Homo sapiens: one gene and its partner. The protein of the gene in region 2 interacts with the protein of the main gene of each other region in a pairwise test. Each region holds a gene or a part of one and is shown on either strand. Other genes may lie near its edges.

Region 1 (9,320 bases), on a different chromosome or scaffold from region 2:
CACTCAAGGATTTACTGAAACAACGAGAAAATGTTTCCCTATCTGTCTTGCCCCTAAACCGAGTTCCTTGAGTGCGGAACCAGCATCTTATTCTCTTTGTGGCCCCTGAGGTAAATGCTCAATAAATGTTTGTTGATAATCTGAGAAGGAAAGGAGAGCCCAAAATAAGCTGATCCAACAGTTACTGGTGGTAAAATGCAAATGTTTTAAAATATGTTTATTTTGTATGTTTTACAATGAATACTTCAGCAAAGAAAATAATTATAATTTCAAAATGCAATCCCTGGATTTGATAAATATCCTTTATAATCGATTACACTAATCAATATCTAGAAATATACATAGACAAAGTTAGCTAATGAATAAAATAAGTAAAATGACTACATAAACTCAATTTCAGGGATGAGGGATCATGCATGATCAGTTAAGTCACTCTGCCACTTTTTAAAATAATACGATTCACATTTGCTTCAATCACATAAACATTCATTGCAGGAGTTACACGGCTAATCATTGAAAATTATGATCTTTGTTAGCTTAAAAGAAAATTCAGTTTAATACAAAGACATTCAAGATGAAAATTTCAGGACCGTTGATCAGAAGCTTTCAATGTGTGTTGCTCTACTTTATTATAGGCAAGATTCAAGTAAGGCTAAGAAAGAAGAGTGTTTCCATTGAGACATGATCTAAGAATAGCCTTCTATAGAGGCAAATTATGTTCTGTAGAAACTAGCTAGCCAGCCACCAAGATGTTACCAATAAAGGATTCCTTGTACTAGCAACTAACCATGTTTAAAAGGTCTTAGCCAGAATTACAAAAACAAAACATTTAGAGTAATACTTATGAATACAAGCATAATTGGTTCCTTGCCTTCTACAAATAACCATCTTGAAAATGATAAAAGCAGGTTTCAACTGTGGTTCTTCTCTCAGTTGAGAAGGTGCAGATACACATGGGTGATCTACTGATTTACCTTCTGAAAGTACTCTTTGGAAGCAGCTGGACTTGGCTTGATCTGAAAATACAAAAGCTTAATTAGGTAACTGTGACTTTACCATAATAATAGTCCCAAAAGTGAGTGGCAATCTCCCAATTTTTAACCTAAAGTTCTTTAAACTTTTAAAGATTTCCTTTAAAACATAAAGATGAAAGTTTCATTAAGGCCTGCCTGTCTCTAGGCCGGGCACGGTGGCTCACGCCGGTAATCCCAGCACTTTGGGAGGCCAAGGCGGGTGGATCACGAGGTCAGGAGATCCAGACCATCCTGGCTAACACGGTGAAACCCCGTCTCTACTAAAATTCAAAAAATTAGCCGTGGTGGTGGGCGCCCTGTAGTCCCAGCTACTCAGGAGGCTGAGGCAGGACAATGGCGTGAACCCAGGAGGCGGAGCTTGCAGTGAGCTGAGAGAGCGCCACTGCACTCCAGCCTGGGCGAGAGCAAGACTCCGTCTCAAAAAAAAAAAAAAAGGCCTGCCTGTCTCTGATAATTGGTTCCTGGCTCCCCACCCCACCCCCTCTACCCCACAGCAGCTTCACCCATTTGCATATCATCTGCACGCTTGCTTCAAGAGTGGGCTCCCTTTTGTGGATATTTCAGGTCAATAGCTCTCGAGGCTGAGAGAACATGGACCTCACTGCTTTTGGGGAAAAAAACCTACCGTAGGAGAATCCGGTGTCCAGTTCGCTGGGCAGACTTCTCCATGTGTTTCTACATACTGGAACGCCTTCACCAAGCGGAGGGTTTCTTCCACGCTTCGGCCCACTGGGAGATCGTTGACGCTCAAATGCTTGATGACTCCATTGGGGTCAATTATGAAGAGACCTCTGCATGATCATTTATCCTCATCAGTGCCTCAACAGTACCAGAACTAGAACAGTCTAACTTCTTCCCTTTTAGGTCTTTAATTCTCCTTTTAATAAAATATTTATTAAGCGTAATCATATGCTTAAAGGTGGGGTTTTCACTGTTGTGCAAAAAACTTATCATCTCTTACTGATGACAGATGCTTTAACAAAGGCAGTACTGGACCAGGTCACCATAAAACATGCAGTATGGTCACACTTACAAGTTCACATAGTGCCCTGAATGTTACACAGTATCGGAAAGTCACTGAACTAGAGAGAGCAAAGACTATTAGTGACTTGGCAAGCATTCTTTGAGCTGCTGTATCACATCTTGGCAAGAAACTTATAGGCAAATGGGAAGAGACAGAGGTGTATTTTATCTAGGTTCAACAACTGTTTATTATGAATGAATTATTGGGTAAATGGGGGGAAATCCCACGGGAAAAATCTTCATAGAAAGAATGTACAGGCTCTAAGTCTATGCAAAACAGAAAACCATGCCCATCACTTTTAATCATGTAGCAGCATGTAATGAGATGAACCACGCTACCACAGTGGTCTGTGTTTATCTTCTGTGTTGGTGTTACTGTGACAGATGCAGATATGTTTAGCCTAGAAGTTTTTTTGGTTGTTTGGTTTAAATATAGGGTCTCACTGTATTGCCCACGCTGGAGTGCAGTGCTCTTCTCAGGTGTGATCACAGCAGGCTGCAGCCTCGAACTTCTGGCTCAACTGATCCTCCCACCTCAGACTCCCAAGTAGCGTGACTATAGGTGTGTGTCACTGTGTCCGGTTATTTAACCTACAGGTTTTAACAGTCTGTCTTAAAAGGATGTGGAAATTTCAGGTATCAATCACTCATGGAAAAGGCAGGTTAGAGAAAACTCAGGATAAAAGATGCTTCTCCCTCCCTGGGTCAGGCACTGGGAGCCTGGGGTTTGAGGTGAAACTGTTCCCAGAGGGTGCAGCCAGCTGAAGTCCACCAATAGAAGGTGAGGCAGAGCTGGGACAGAGCAGGGCCCATAGACTCCCAAAAGTCTTTATCTTATAAGCCAGACTCAGCTTCTCTCTCTTGTTAATCTCAATATTAAAACGGGTACAGAGGTAACTGCAAAATTAGTGAGTTCTCATAGGGAAAGGGACCGTAGGAGAAAAATAGCCAGTACCCTTTCTCTGGCCATTGACAATTCTGAAAGACCTAGGCATTCGTTTGATAATCTCTTTAAAGTTTAAAAAAAAAAAAATGGTCTGCCAGGTGCGGTGGCTCATGCCTGTAATCCCAGCACTTTTGAGAGGCCGAGGCAGGCAGATCACGAAGTCAAGAGTTTTGAGACCAGCCTGGCCAACACGATGAAACCCCATCTCTACTAAGAATACAAAAATTGGCCGGGCGTGGTGGCGTGTGCCTGTAATCCCAGCTACTCGGGAGGCTGAGGCAGGAGAACTGCTTGAACCCGGGAGGTGGAGGTTGCAGTGAGCCGAGATCACGCCACTGCACTCCAGCCTGGGCGATAAAGCAAGACACCGTCTCGAAAAGAAAAGAAAAAAAAAAAAAGAGAGGAAAAAAAGGCCCAAACTCTAAGATGCCACTCAGCGCTAAAACCCAAGGTGTAACCCAAGAAAGAGCAGGCCAGAGGTCACCTACAAGACAGGCAGGTGAGCTGGCTTTGTTTGTTTGTTTGTTTGTTTGCTTTTGAGACAGAGTCTTGCTCTGTCGCCCAGGCTGGAGTGCAGTGGTGCGATCTCAGCTCACTGCAAGCTCCACCTCCCAGGTTCACGCCATTCTCCTGCCTCAGCCTCCCGAGTAGCTGGGACTACAGGCGCCCACCACCACGCCCAGCTAATTTTTTGTATTTTTAGTAGAGACGGGGTTTCACCATGTTGACCAGGATGGTCTCGATCTCTTGACCTCGTGATCCACCTGCCTCGGCCTCCCAAAGTGCTGGCATTACAGGCCTGAGCCACCGCGCCCGGCCAGGTGAGCTGGCTTTAAGCTGACCAGCCCCCAGCAAAACTGTGAGGCACAGCACATCAAAGGGGGATCCCCTCTCTTCCTTCCTGGAGGTCAAGTTCTGCCCTATCCCTCCTTCACTCCTATTCTCAGCAGACTTCAAGATGCCAATTCTAAGACCCAAGTTCTCATCCCTCCCAGGAAGGTTATGTTTGAATGTGGGGCTGCTGAGGACTGAAAGCTTTTCACACTCAAAGGAATAAAGGTTTAATAAGGGACTGAATACAGATAGAAATGATGTTCTGGGGCAGAAATCCTAACAACTGCTGCCAGTAACTATGCTAAAAACTCTAGCTGTGTCACTATTTAATCCTCACACCCACCTGTGACGTACCACCTCATTTTAGTTATGGGAAAACTGGGGCTCAACAAGGTTAAATCAAATCAGTTGCCCAAAGTCACACAGCTATTAAGTAGCTGAGTTAAAAAAAAGAAAAACTCAAACCAAGGATTGTTTGGTTCCAGGGCTGAAGATGGTCACCATTCCAAGAGACTACCTCTTACCCTGCTAGTCCCCCCTTCTGCAGAGTCTGATGGCTTCAATGTCAGGTGTGTGTCCCCATGGAAGTGGCTCCCACATAGTTAGGGAGTATGGAGCAGTGTGGCCTCAAGACGCAGCCAGCCTTCTTCAGAAAGAGACCCAAGGTGGTGGAGGGGACATGCATGTCTCAGCATTTCTGAGAGACCGCCAACCCTTGCAGGAGGCATTTCATCAGTGTTTATTAAAGACTAAAATTAAGGATTGATTATTATAAATTTTAATTCTTTTTAATATAATAGGGATGAGGTCTCACTATGTTGCCCAGGCTGGTCTTGAACTTCTGAACTCAAGTGATCTTCCCGCCTTGGCCTCCCAAAGTGCTACGATTACAGGCATGAGCCACCATGCCCAGCCAGGATCTTCTGGTTTTAAAAATGCTTTACCAAGGTCTACATAAATCCCCTAAGAAGCAGAATGATACTAAACATGAAAAATAATCTTAAGTTCATCAGAAACAGGATCTTACCTTAGTGCAAGACCAGAACCTTCTAACAGCACACCGTAGTCTCGGGAAATCTGCTTAGTTAAGTCTGACAAGAGTGCGATGTTCATGTGGCCCAAACCACCATTCTAATCAAAATGCAAACATGACTGTTAGAATGTGTGGCCTCACAACATTCTTGACCACGTACCACAATGTTTGAGACCAACAGTAACGGCGATAGGTAACAGTAATTCAACAACGGGCCAAGCACTGCTTACTCTATTAACCTACTGCCTCCTCGAAACCACCCTGGAGAAGACACTATCAAAATGAGGAAACTGAGGCAAGAAAAACCTAAGTAACTTGTTCCAGGTCACAGCTAGAAAGGAGCAGAAGGAAGATTTACACCCGGCTAATACTATAGACCTTTTCCAATTTTTTTTTTAAGACACAGAGTCTCGCTGTCACCAGGCTGGAATGCAGTGATGCAATCACAGCTCACAGCAGCCTCAAACTCCTGGGCTCATGCAATCATCCTACCCCAGTCTCCTGAGTAGCTGGGACTACAGATGCTTTTTCTAATTCTTTATTATTTTATTTATTTATTTATTTATTTTGAGATGGAGTCTCGCTCTGTCGCCCAGGCTGGAGTGCAGTGGTGCGATCTTGGCTCATGGCAACCACCGCCTCCTGGGTTCAAGCGATTCTCCTGCCTCAGCCTCCCGAGTAGCTGGGACTACAGGCGCCCACCACCACACTTGGCTAATTTTTTTTATTTTTAGTAGAGATGGGGTTTCACCGTGTTAGCCAGGATGGTCTCGATCTCCTGACTTTGTGATCCACCTGTCTCGGCCTCTCAAAGTGCTGGGATTACAGGCGTGAGCCATCACGCCCGGCTGCTTTTTCTAATTCTTAAAGCATTCTTTTAAAGGCTAATTTTCTCAAACATAGACATGGAAGAGTAATAATAAAAAAAATACCTTGAGTAGGCCAGGTGTGGTGGCTCATGCCTGTAATTCCGGCACTTTGGGAGGCCAAGGTGGGCGGATCACCTGAGGTCAGGAGTTCGAGACCAGCGTGACCAACATGGAGACACCCCGTCTCTACTAAAAATACAAAATTAGCCAGGGGTGGTGACACATGCCTGTAATCCCAGCTACTCGGGAAGCTGAGGTAGGAGAATCGCTTGAACCCAGGTGGCGGAGGTTGCAGTGAGCTGAGATTGTGCCATTGCACTCCAGCCTGGGCAACAAGAGTGAAGCTCCGTCTCAAAAAAAAAAAAAAAAAAAAACCCAACCCTTGCGTAATTTGATCTTGATAGTCCAGCAGCATAGCTAGAAATTTAGATTCTTCCAAGCAAGTTTATAAGAGCAAAAGCTAGGGGTACAATGCCATACCTTTCTTGGTGTATTTATCCAGGCAAGATGGCTAAAGTGGGAATCCACTGAGACTGCGACAACTTCACAGTTCACGTCGTGAAATTCGTTAGCTTTGTCACTAAAAGCAACAATTTCTGTAGGACACACAAAGGTGCTGGAAAAAAAGGATAGAAATTCTCATTAGAGCATTTAAAAACAAGGATTTTAACAATTAGTGGTCTAACAACTAGTTCAACTTGCTAAGGGTAAAAAAGGCAAAATGGTTTACCATCCTCACTGGACTATAGTGTTGTGCTGGCAAAAGTACTACTACCTCCCCTCACCTTTTTATTTTTAGGAATTGTATCAAAAAATGGGGAAAGGGAACACATATTTTAAGAAAAAAAAATTACAGTTCAATAAAGTTGCTTTTTGAAAAAAATCATTTTATTATGCCTACTTTTCTCATTTTTCCCCAGACCAGTGAAAACTTTTTCATAGACTGGCTTAGGGAAGCAGTGCTCCAGAGCACAGAGGTGTACTATAAAGAAAGCTGTCCTACCCCACCCCCGAAGTTTATCACTTGTAAACAAGCTACAGATCCCAGCTGTAATCAACAAGGCCATCAGTGATAAAGGGTCAGAAAGAATCCTTCCTTTCACAAGGGTATCTAGGGATAGACAATTCAGTGTGGGAACAGGATATGTGCTTGCTCTCAGAATGACACGAAAGCATCATAGAAATTACACTTACAAATCCAAAGGATAGAAGAAAAGCACCAAATATTTCCCCTTAAAGTCATCAAGGCTTAGGTCTTTGAACTCTCCATTGACAACGGCTGTACCCTTAAAATAGGGTGCATGCTGGGTGACAGCAGGTGCATGGCATGAGGAACCTGAAAAAAAACCCACACTCATATGGAGTTCATCATTTGCTATGTCAAGCACCTATGATTTTATTTAAACTTCTCATAATTAATTAGTAGTATAAAGTGCTTAGTATAAATCAAAACATTCGGTTCAACTGTACATCTTAGGCACAGTCATCCTTTGCCACCTGTGGGGGGATTGGTTCTAGGATATCGAAATCTACAGATGCTCAAGTCTCTTACATAAAGTGGTGATTTGCATATAATCCACACACACCCTCCAGTATACTTAAATCATCTCTAGATTACTCATAATACCTAATACGACGTAAATGCTACGTAAATAGTCGTTAAGCTGTATTGTTTAGGGAATGACAAGAAAAAAAGACTTTGTGTTCAGTATAGACACAACCATCCATTTTTCCCTCCCAATATTTTCGATTCAACCAACCACAGATGCAGAATCCAGATACAGAGGGCCAACTGTAATTTCTCCTTCTATAGTTTTAGATTGTGCACAAATTCAATTCCAACTGCTACAGAAACTAAAAAGAGGAAGACAAAGTAGGGATAGAATTAAGGAAGACATGAGACTAGAGATGGATTTTAAATATGGTTCAGATTTTGTCAAGTCTAGATGGGATGGGGCAGATGGCATGTAGGAAACAGCAGGAAGGAAGACAGGACATGTGTGTGGAGCAGCGTGTGGCAGTCTAATGAGAACAGAGAGTGTCTAAGGGTACGGAGTGAAGAGCAGGCAGCAGGCAGGAATGGTTGAAGGCCATGTTGCAACAGTCCTTAAATACTAGGCTGCTGGGTCTTCTTAGCAGGAAAGATAACAGAGTCAAGGGCGGAGTCTCGCTCTGTTCGCCCAGGCTGGAGTGCAGTGGCACAATCTCAGCTCACTGCAAGCTCTGCCTCCTGGGTTCACGCCATTCTCCGGCCTCAGCCTCCCGAGTAGCTGGGACCACAGGCGCCCGCCACCCCGCCCGGCTAATTTTTTGTATTTTTAGTAGAGATGGGGTTTCACCGTGTTAGCCAGGATGGTCTCCATCTCCTGACCTCGTGATCTGCCAGCCTCGGCCTCCCAAAGTGCTGGGATTACAGGCGTGAGCCACAGTGCCTGGCTGAGATGGGGGTTTTTAGGAAGATTAGTCCGGCAGGAGGGAAAGAGGAGCAGGAGGAAGGGGGAGACATGTTAGGAGGTGGTTTCAGTGATTTTTTTTTTTTTGAGACAGAGTTTCGCTCTGTCACCTAGGCTGGAGTGTAGTGGCATGGTCTCGGCTCACTGCAACCTCCGCCTCCCAGGTTCAAGCAATTCTCCTGCCTCAGCCTCCCAAGTAGCTGGGATTCCAGTAGCACACCACCACACCCGGCTTATTTTTTTTAAGTATTTTTAGTAGAGACGGGATTTCACCAGGTTGGCCAGGATGGTCTTGAACTCCTGACCTCAAGTAATTCGCCTGCCTTGGCCTCTCAAAGTGCTGGGATTACAGGTGTGAGCCACTGTGCCCAGCCTCGATTTCAGTGATCTTAGACGTATTGAGGGGAGGTATGGGGCAGAAAGAACAGAAAGGAATGGATGCAAGAGATGTGTCAAAACTGAAAAGGACTTGCTTCTACCCAGGAATGAGCGACAGAGTAGTTCCAATGTCAAAATGCCTGACACCGCCATGAACAGAAACAGGAGGCGCTGCTGGGGATGAGGATTCGAAACCAGTGGAGTAAAGTTTTAAGCCTGTGGTATCACATCACTACTAGAAATATTTTGAAGCTCCAGGGTAGTAAAATTGCGAAAGCTCTTAGAACATTTTGCCCACAAACAAAGGCTTTACTAAAGTATATCCCCACAAACCATTACATATTAAATACGGGCTTTTTCAAAGGCTAGTCAAATCTAGACAAGGTATTTTCAAATACCACTCATTATCTGAGGCTGATCTTAGCAAAGCCCATATCCTAGAGAAGGGAGTGTAAATCTCAAGAAACAGCTAAATTTCGCTCAGATTACAGATACCATTAGACAGGTCTGGTTCCTAAGTGGCCAGCTGGGGCCATTACACAGGTTTGAATCTTAGAGCAGCTGCCCTCTCAGGTCCCCCACAGGCTGCCCACCACTCACAGCTCTTCAGACACACTAGACTCAGAAGGCATCTGAGCTCCCAGTAACACCCTCCTCAACACAGTGGATTAGAAACTCTGACAACCAACATGGAAATGTGACAAGGGCAGTTTGCCTCAGTGATTCTCAACCCTGGCTGCACGTTAGAAT
Region 2 (10,211 bases):
TGAATCTTCTTAATTTTCCTTTCTTCCCTCCTTTTCATATCAGAATGCTATGTTTTCGCTCATTTTCTTTCCTGATTCTGAAAGTCTCTCTCTCTCTTCTGTTCTAAGACCCTGCATGTCAATAGTTTTCAAGCCCGGCTGCACATTAGACTCAGCTGGGAAGCTTTTTAAAAATACATCATCACTGGGTCCCATCACAAACCAATTAAATATAAATCTCTGGAGGTGGAAGCATGGCATCAGTATTTTTTTTAAGTTCCCTGGTAGGGTGCCAAGACAATTTAATGGGGGAAAGAATAGTCTTTTAAACAAATATTACTCAAACAACTGAATATCCAGATTCAAAAGAATAAAGTTGAACCCTGTCTTTATAGCACACACAAAAAATAACTCAAAATGAGTCACAGATCTAAATGTGGAGCTAAAACTATAAAACTCTTAGAAGAAAACATAGAAGTAAATCTTTATGACCTTGAGTCAGGCAAAGCCAACTTAGATATGACACCAAAAGCATAGGCAACAAAAGAAAATAAAACTGAACTTCATCAAAATTAAAAATTTTTATACCATAAACAATATTATCAAGAAAGTGGAGGCAACCTATGGAATGAGAGAAAATATTTGCAAAGTATACATCTGATAAAGAGCTTGTGTCCAGAATATATAAAGGACACTTGCAAGTCAGGATTAAAAGATAATTTAATTTTTAATGTGGACAATGTGTCTAAATAGATATTTTTCCAAAGAAGATATACAGATGGCCAATAAGCACATAAAAAGATCCTTGACATCATTCACTTTTAGGGAAATATAAACCAAAACCACAATGAGATTCCATTTCAAACTTGTTAAGATGGTTCTAATAGAAAAGATAGATAATAACAAGTGTTGAAGAGGATGTGCTGAAACTGGACCCTCATACATTGCTGATGGGAATGTAAAATGGTGCAACCACTTTGGAAAACAATTTGGCATCTCCTGAAAATGTTAAACATATAGTAATCATAATGACCCAGCAATTCAAGTCCCAGGTATATACCCAAGAGAAATTAAAACAAATTCACACAAAAATGTGTACACAAATGTTCATAGAAGCATTATTCCTAATAGTCAAAAAGCGGAAGCCCAAATATCTATCAACTGATGAATGGATAAGTAAAATATGGTGCACTGGAATATTTCTTGGGAATAAAAAGATAAGAAGTACTGATATAGGCTACAACATGGACAAACTTTGAAAACATTATGCTAAGTGAAATAAGCTAGTTACAAAAGAGCATGTACTGTATGATTTCATTTACATGAAATATCCAGACTGAGCAAATCTATATATAGAGAAAGCAGATTGGCGGTTGTCTAGGGCTGGGGGGTGAAGAGAAATGAGGAGTGACTGCTAATGGGTATGTGGTTTCTTTTTGTGATGATGAAAATGTTCTAAAATGGATTGTGATGATTGTACAACTCTGTGAACATACTAAAAACCATTAAATAGGAAAAAAGAAAAGAGAAAAGAAAGGAAGGAAGGAAGGGAGGGAGGGAGGGAGGGAGGGAAGGGAAAGGGGAGGGGAAGAGAGGGGAGGGGAGGGGAGGGGAGGGGAGGGGAGGGGAGGGGAGGGGAGGGGAGGGGATGGGGAGAAAGAGGTAGGGAGGGAAGGGAAAAAGGTTCCACAGGTAATTCTAATACTGAAGTTTATTTCCGGCATTTTCCTTTCTAGATTCCTTCAGAGTAAAGACTGCATTTTCTAAATTTTTTTCTCCCCCATATTCTTACAGAATAGTAACACAGAGCAAGGGTGTGATTTTTTTATTTTTATTTTTTTGCAACAAACTGTTCTTGGGGAATGTTCTTTATTTTAATCAAAATTGCAAGATCAGGCTGCCACCTGGCAGAATTGGTCATCTTGGCTATCTTGAACTATTTGAGCTCTCCAAGCACTTAATTCAGCTGAAGCACACAGAAAGAGGATAGGCACACAACGCAAACCAAACTGACCGGTTTTGCCATCTGAAGTATGGTTGTTCTGTCATCTACCAGTGGATGTGGCCTCTGGCCCTTAGGAACCATTCTTTTGACAGTTCCCCAGGACATGGCTCTGGTTTGACTGACTTTGTTTACTAAATAAATTAATTCCTACTTCTGGAGTAGCTTCAGTTTTTAAACAGAAAGCCATCTATTGACAGTCACTGATACACAGGATTTTATTGTTTGATATTAAACAATTAAGAGTTATTGTTTTTTTCCCTACAAGTACACTATACATGAAGATAAATATAATGTAGAATACAGTCACTAGGAGTGGGGAGAGAGGGGGATTCTATATCTGCTCTGTGCCTTAAAGTAACAGTTTTACTTTAGTAAATCCAAAGTACATACTGTATTTCTTTCACAGAAATAAGGCTCTCTTTTGGCAAAATGTGCATCAAAGACAGAGTCTGATGAACATTTTTTAAGATGAGTTTGATTATTAAACAACATTTTTTAAATATCCTAAGAATTTGACCTTTCGTGCTAGTAGACTTCAATAATTTAAAATTACTTGGAAATTGCTACTTTCAACAAACTCTCTGAAGATATACAAAAAAGGAAAATGCTGAAATAAGTCAAGATGTTTACAAATATTATGTCTAAAATGTTATCTCATTTGTTAAACCCAGAAAATAAAAAATAATAAAATATGAAACCATAATTGTCCGAGTATAGGACAAAGATCTGATTTAGAATCAGGCAGAGGTTTTCCCTCTATTACTCCAGCAAGTTCAAATGTACTCAGAAATACAAAATGATTGACGGTAATATCAAGATGAGAAACAAAAGACAATGTTACATCCTCAGGTATGATAAGTTTGAAATTAGATGAGTTTACAGTTGGAAGATTCATTAAGAACAACAATTCAAAAGATATTATAGCCATAATTTAGAAGTCTTGCTTCACGAGAAAAGATAATATAAAAATCTAAAAATTAAGTATTGATTTTACAAGGTAAACATGGCAGCCTGGATTATAAGAAATATCAGGCATTTTGCTTTCTCAGGAGAAAGAACAACTGGGTACATGCTGCAGACTGGCATATAAATCGCTCAAAGTGAAGCAGTTGGGAAATGCTGTCAGATTATTCGGGTTGAGGAGCTGCCCCAGGGGCAGAACATGTCACAATGTCACATCCCTCTTCTTTACTCTCACAACTTTCACCAGAATAAACAGACCCTTGGAAAACAAATTCAATCACAAATAGTAACTTTTTGTTAAAACTACAGTAGCAAACTACCAAACCAACTTTATACATGGAACATATCAGAACTTTTCCATGTTTCCCCAACACAGTGGAATAAACTATTTTCAGCTAATAAGTTCATCTTAGGAAAACACTCATGTGCATTTCTATGCAATATAATTGTGGAACATTGTAACCACTTCTTAGTTTTCATTAGAGGATATTGAAAAACCCAAGTTTAAGGATAATTCCCCCTTTCCCTCGAATGCAGCTTTTTAAGTTTTTGACACTATAAAGTGTAGAGAGTGACATAAAGAAGAGCTATGAATATATATAAATACACCACTATGGCTCCCGTCATAAGAGCTTTTGAAAAATGGTTGAACAAGTATTCATCTTCACCAAATTGCAATCGCAAGATACTGACTGTTACACAATATGAAACAAAGGCAAGGTGAAGGGTGAGGAACGGCAGAAAGGACGGTCGCAAGGAAGACAAGTGCCCCACAGGATAGAACCTGCTCTGTCTTGCGGGCCCCGCTTTTCTCAGCACCTTTCTGGTGTTCTGGGCTTTTCTGCTAATACCATCCACATCATCTCTCAGAGAAATGAATCTCCCTTTAAGGAAAGCCAAGCAGGCATCCGAGGTAACGTGCAGAACCGTAAATGAAAAATGTCCACGTCTAGCAGGCAGACAAGCAAAGGAAAACCAGCTGTCAGTTTCAGAGGCTCCTAGCTGTAACGGGGTTTCGGGTTTCTCTCCGCCTCTGTCTCTCTGTCTCTCTCACGGTGTCGCCCTCAATAATATCAGCTTTCTAATCACCTCAAATCACACATTCTCTGTCTGTCCTTGTGAAATAAATACTGAAGAAACAGGAAAAACAGAGTGCAATACTCACAACAACGAAGAATTCCTACACATGCTGTTCCATTTTCTTGCTTTGAAAAGATGTAAGGTGAATTTTAAAAGCCTTGCAGAATTGGAAAAATAAAGGGGAGGGGGATTCCACCCACACAATCCTCCAGCCCACCGCAAAGGAGCCCAAAGGCTTGCTGACGTCACAGATTCATGAATGGATGTAAATTGGGCTGGTTTAGGATTCCGCACAGACTTCGCTGTGGTGTGTGTCATGAAAAAAAAAAGAGGGGCGGGTCCAGAGTAGGCCCAGCCAATAGGCTTCAGGCAGACATGGCCTTCCTTCTTTTAGAAGGAATCTGGTCACAGAATAAACAGAGCCCGCCAATCAGGCATCTGCCACTGCCTTAAGACAGACTGGCAGCTTGAGTGTGTGTGTGTGTGTGTGTGTGTGCGTGTGTGTGTGTGTGTGTGTGTGTGTTTCAAGCTGTGATAGTCATAAAAACATTATTATTGTTATTGAATGAAGGAATCAAAATAGAATTTCTGTGGAATCAAGGATAACAAAAATGCATATAGAAGAAATCCCATCTTTTATTCATTAGAACTCTTTTCTTCAACCCTTTTCTTACTGTTCAGCAATATGCCTGATGCGATCAAAACAAATCAAAGTCAGGAAAACCATTTCTAAAACTAGCAGACTAGTGGACATGTATGCCCTGCTCACCACGACTTGTAAAAGCAAAATTGTCGGGACTTGTAAAAGCAAAATTGTCGGGAAGAACGCATGGGAACAATAATCTAGTAACTAAGAAAACAGACATATGGAAAATAATATTACACGAATGTAGCTGTTTTGCACAGCAGTAACATCTTGCTGACCTTCATGATGTATCAAAAGTGGATATGGAAGAAAAATTTACTGCTACTTTTAAGTAGGGTACAGTGTTTCCTCATTGGTTTATTCAACTTCTGGCAGTCGATTAAGACACAGCTCCAAAAGGGCACTTAATGAAACTTTGAACAAATTTTGGTTTCAGTAAGATGTTTTATTATTAACAGCAAAAACAGCTGTATTAAATTCACTCAAGAGGCATCTCTTTCTTCTTTATTTTTACACTTTTCAGTTATACAAAATTGGAGATGAATATATTTATTGTCCCTACTCCCCATCACTACACTTCACAATGACTAATACTTGACAAATACTGATCATGATTTTTCTGAACTTGGGAAATGGCCTCAATCCTTGAAACTAGAACGATCGTGGTTAATATAAAGCCTCAGTTATGAGGTGTCCAGTGACCAAGAACATTCTGAACAGAGATCTGCTCTATTTCTCAATCAGATTATTTATACAACTGTGAGAGAAGGAAAGTGGTGGCCTGTTTCTAAGTGGTTCTGGAGGGTCTAAACCTGACCACTAGTAAGTATTGCACACTTCTTAGCTCATTTGGAAAAGGAAAACTTTTCAGGATAATTTTACACACAGCAAAGATATTCAGTGTACTGTCTATATTGAAGCAATAGAATATCGTTGGCAAACAACATAGTTAACAAACTTCTCTAAAGGAGCTTATTGTGGAATATCACTACAAAAAAGATAGACCAAAGAAGTTTACACATGTAACATGGGAGTGCTCAAGGCAAATACGGCATTGGTACACGCCCAGTAGGCCTCAGTGTACCACATTATTTAAGAACGAACATGCAAGGCACGGTGGCTCATGCCTGTAATCCCAACACTTTGGGAGGCCAAGGTGGGCGGATCACGAGGTCAGGGATCGAGACCATCCTGGCTAACATGGTGAAACCCCGTCTCTACTAAAAATACAAAAACAAAATTAGCCGGGCGTGATGGTGGGCGCCTGTAGCCCCAGCTACTCGGGAGGCTGAGGCAGGAGAATGGCGTGAACCCGGGAGGCGGAGCTTGCAGTGAGCCGAGATCTTGCCACTGCACTCCAGCCTGGGTGACAGAGCAAGACTCCGTCTCAAAGAAAAAAGAAAAAAAAAAAACAAAAAACGAACAAATGGAAAGCTGAAGAATATACATCTCTATTTAACAACAACCAAAGCCAATCAGGATACATTAAAAGAATCAGATTTATGGAAAACATTTTTTTCTTCCAAAACAATACAGACTAACTAATGGAAAGAGGCAAACTTTTTGTGGACTATGTCAATAAAATAGCCAAGAAACATCAATTTGTGTGTGTGTGTATATATATATATAATATATACACACACATATAAAATCTGTATATATGTATATGTATATATGTGTGTATACACACACACACACACACACACACATATATATATATACACATACACATATACATATAAAATCTGAGGTCAGGAGTTTGAGACAAGCCTGGCCAACATGGTGAAACCCCATCTCTACTAAAAATACAAAAATTAGCTGGGCATGGTGGCACACATCTGTAATCCCAGCTACTCGGGAAGCTGAGGCATGAGAATCGCTTGAATCTGGGAGGCAGAGGTTGCAGTGAGCTGAGATCACACCACTGCACTCCAGCCTGGTGACAGAGTGAGACTCCCTCTCTCAAAAAAAAAAAAAAAAAAAAAAAAAGCTAAAGCTGTTGTAGAAGTTTTTCTGTAAGTTTTGACAGCAACAAAATTACTAATAAGTCCACTATGGATGGGAGTAGTCTCTGAAGCAATTCAACAAAACAGGGTCTATAAATGCTTCTAATAACAGTCACCTAAGATTCTTGGCTCAATATATAACCTGGAAAATAAAAACTTGGGGGCTTTATGGACTTGCCACTTCAGTAAGATGATAAACTTGGCCTCAGTTAGCATGCTTCCTGTACCACAGGAACATCAGCTAGGCCAACAAAGACTCCTCCATGTCAACTATCATGGGAAATCATTGGAAAGATAAGCTGTCTCACCAAATTATGGAAGATATAGAAGTCAGTCTTGGAGGAAGTCATTATCATTTTAGAAGCAGAAGGTAGGAAGGGATATAGAGGCATGAAAAATGTACACTCTAGAGAAGTACAGCCCAAGAGAACTTGCTGTGATTATGGAGCATTCCATAGATTTGAAAGATGGCTAGTGTTCTTGAGGAAGTGAATTTTTAATGTAAAGTGATTTAAATTTATTTAACTCCAAAATAGTCACATTTAGCTGGTGGCTATGGTATGCAACAATGCAACTCTAGAGATATCAAGCCAAGTCCCATCATTATAAGTAATTTTTAATTGCAGCACATGGGCATACTAAGTGTGGAGGACTGCAAAGCCATTATCAAGGTGAGTAAGCTCTTTTAAGAACCAAATGAATCTCCTCAAACTTCAGTAATAACTGGAAAATGACTCTAGTCTCATTATGCAAGAAGATATTTAAAACTCATTATTAGATAAAAATCTATATATAGAAATTAAGGTACAATAATTCTGCTATAAAATATAAGCTATTCTTGTTTTGGAGTTTTTTTTTTTTGAGGAAAAAAATGTGTTTTTAAAAAAGGAAAACAACTCATTTAAGCCAGAATCGAAGTCCAAAGTATCATGACCCATGGGCAATTTTTGTCAGAAATACCAGGAAAAAGAAAGAGTTTAGTGATCTCAAATGCTAATACGTGGAGACTCAAATTTCCTTCACAGATAAGTGTGTAGTGGTTAAAAGCTGGTAAAGAGATCTGGGCTCAAATCCTATTTCTGCCACTTATTAGTTATGAATATTCAGGTAAACCTGAGTTTCAGTTTTCTCATTATTAGAATGGGGATTATAATAGCCTATATTATTGTGTGAAGGTTAAAGTAATATTATAACACATGTAAAGATTTGCACACAGTACCTACATACAGAAGTTACTCAGTAAATGATACTGGTAGCTGGTTTTATTTTGTTATTGAGACCCTGCTACTCTCTCAACAAGGGAAATTTCAACAACTGTGCAGATCCAGGAATCAGAACCACAGGAACTAATACAACATCTTTATTTTGCTTATAATAAATCTTGAACAGATCTGATATGGTTTGGCTCTGTGTCCCCACCCAAATCTCATCTTGAATTGTAATCCCATAATCCCCATGTGTTGTGGGAGGGATCTGGTGGGGGGTAATTGAATCATGGGGGCAGTTCCTCCATACTGTTCTCATGGTAGTGAATAGGTCTCACAAGATCTGATGGTTTTATCAGGGGTTTCCACTTTTGCATCTTCCTCACTCTCTCTTTGCCTGCTGCCGTCCGTGTAAGATATAACTTGCTCTTCCTTGCCTTCCACCATAATTGCGAGGTTTCCCCAGCCATGTGGAACTGTAAGTCCAATTAAACCTCTTTCTTTTGTAAATTGCCCAGTCTCAGGTACGTTTTTATCATCAGCGTGAAAACAGACTAATACAAAATCTTTTCAGGAAATTCTAAAAATATCTATTAGTGACCCAACTTCCAAAGGGAAGTTCATCCAAGTCATTTTCCTTCAGGTGGTTGGGGAATATCTTTGGGGTTCTGAAACAGATCAGGGGAACCTTCAGGTAGTTATGCTAGCTGATCAAGAGCTCTATTCATTGTTTTTAAAAAGCAGCTACATTTTTCTACATAAAGATGTAGTTTGTATAAAATGATGTGAATTAATCTGGAAAACAATCTGTCTCCTAGTTGGGAATACTGGTCAGAATTCTCCACTTTCATATCAGAATGTTAACCCTATTTCCACTCCAAAGTATATGGAGCCTTGGTCAATAACTGAATTTCAATATTCAAAGACCTCAGCAGATTATTATTAATACTGCCATTTTTCTCTGTCCAGCTCCCATTAAATGCCTATCTGAGAAAGTGATTTTTAAGAAACATCTAAGGAAAAACATTCTTATAAGTTCACTCAAATCTATCCTTGTGTCAAGGGAGATCATCAGAAAGCTACATGCTATCTAAATATCATTAGCCTAATACCCCTTAGAAGAATAACTATCATTGAGTGTTGTGGTCTTGCTTTTATTAAAAATTATTATAAGGAAGATTCATATTGCTTCTGTGTTGTCCATTATCTTGAATGATATCTCCCATGTAAGGAATTCACATGGAGAATTTGTTTTACAACTTAATATGAAGGAAAAATTTTCTGTTCTTGAAGAATTATTAGGTGTCTGTCTACCTTTTAGATGATAACAGTGTAATCCACTGAATTTTCATTTTTTCGACCCTGCTGCTGGGAAGCTCAGAGCCAACTTTAAAATTCATATGCTTTAAAATAAGCTAAGCACAAAAGTATATATTTACATGCATACTTGCTTTCTCTTCCTTGTTTTGGGTTGGATTACTCTATGGTTAACCTTATTATATACATTCTTTTTTATGATAAGCACTTCAAACACTTTTTGAAAAGGTATGCTATAAATAAAAATTTGCACTAAATACATATCTGTAAACTTTTAAGAAGATTAAAGCCTCATGTTAAATTCTACAGTCATCTTTATATTAAAGGTACACATTATGGCAAACTTTAAAGAATATTGTGAGTTAATTAGACTTAACTATTCAATATTTTTAATTAAAGGATAATAAAATATCTAGCCAGCTGGAGAAAAGCAATTGCTTGAGATTTTATGTGCTATTCAGAATAAGTCTTAACAGCTTAATGAAGCTTTAATGTGTTATTCCTGTCAAAAGGATGATTACCAATGAGGGATATAAGATTCTTCTCTGACTGATAACACAAATGTACTGAAGCAAATCAAAAGCAGATGGATTTCTCAATTAATAAAATATTTACCATCCCCAAAATACACCATTCCATAACATACAAATTCTGGCAAAATACCATAAACCAAACCTTTGCAGGATTAAAAATAATATACTGAGTTTGCAAAGGTACTTTATACACTGAAAGAGCAAAAGAAGACTTTATAGATTACTTTACTCATCCACATAGAATTCATACTACTTTCTTTCTTTCTTTTTCTTTTTTTCTTTTTTTTTTTTTTTTTTTTAGATGGAGTTTCACTCTTGTTGCCCAGGCTGGAGTGCAATGGCGCGATCTTGGCTCACCGTAACCTCCGCCTCCCGGGTTCAAGCAATTCTCCTGCCTCAGCCTCCTGAGTAGCTGAGATTACAGGCGCCCGCCACCACATGCAGCTAATTTTTTTTGTATTTTTAGTTGAGATGGGG

Evidence for each region.
Region 1: the proteins of MAP3K13 (region 2) and PRDX3 interact in a two-hybrid assay, tested with the Homo sapiens proteins (one study listed by BioGRID).

The regions. Positions count from the first base shown.
Region 1 is NC_000010.11:119,167,518-119,176,837, forward strand, and holds the end of PRDX3 (thioredoxin-dependent peroxide reductase, mitochondrial isoform a precursor), read right to left. Parts: intron 7,076-9,320; coding exon 6,934-7,075; intron 6,356-6,933; coding exon 6,220-6,355; intron 4,969-6,219; coding exon 4,865-4,968; intron 1,826-4,864; coding exon 1,660-1,825; intron 1,017-1,659; coding exon 963-1,016; 3' UTR 203-962; downstream 1-202. UniProt on the Homo sapiens protein: Thiol-specific peroxidase that catalyzes the reduction of hydrogen peroxide and organic hydroperoxides to water and alcohols, respectively. Plays a role in cell protection against oxidative stress by detoxifying peroxides.
Region 2 is NC_000003.12:185,357,270-185,367,480, reverse strand, and holds the start of MAP3K13 (mitogen-activated protein kinase kinase kinase 13), read right to left. Parts: upstream 4,346-10,211; 5' UTR 4,113-4,345; intron 1-4,112. UniProt on the Homo sapiens protein: Activates the JUN N-terminal pathway through activation of the MAP kinase kinase MAP2K7. Acts synergistically with PRDX3 to regulate the activation of NF-kappa-B in the cytosol.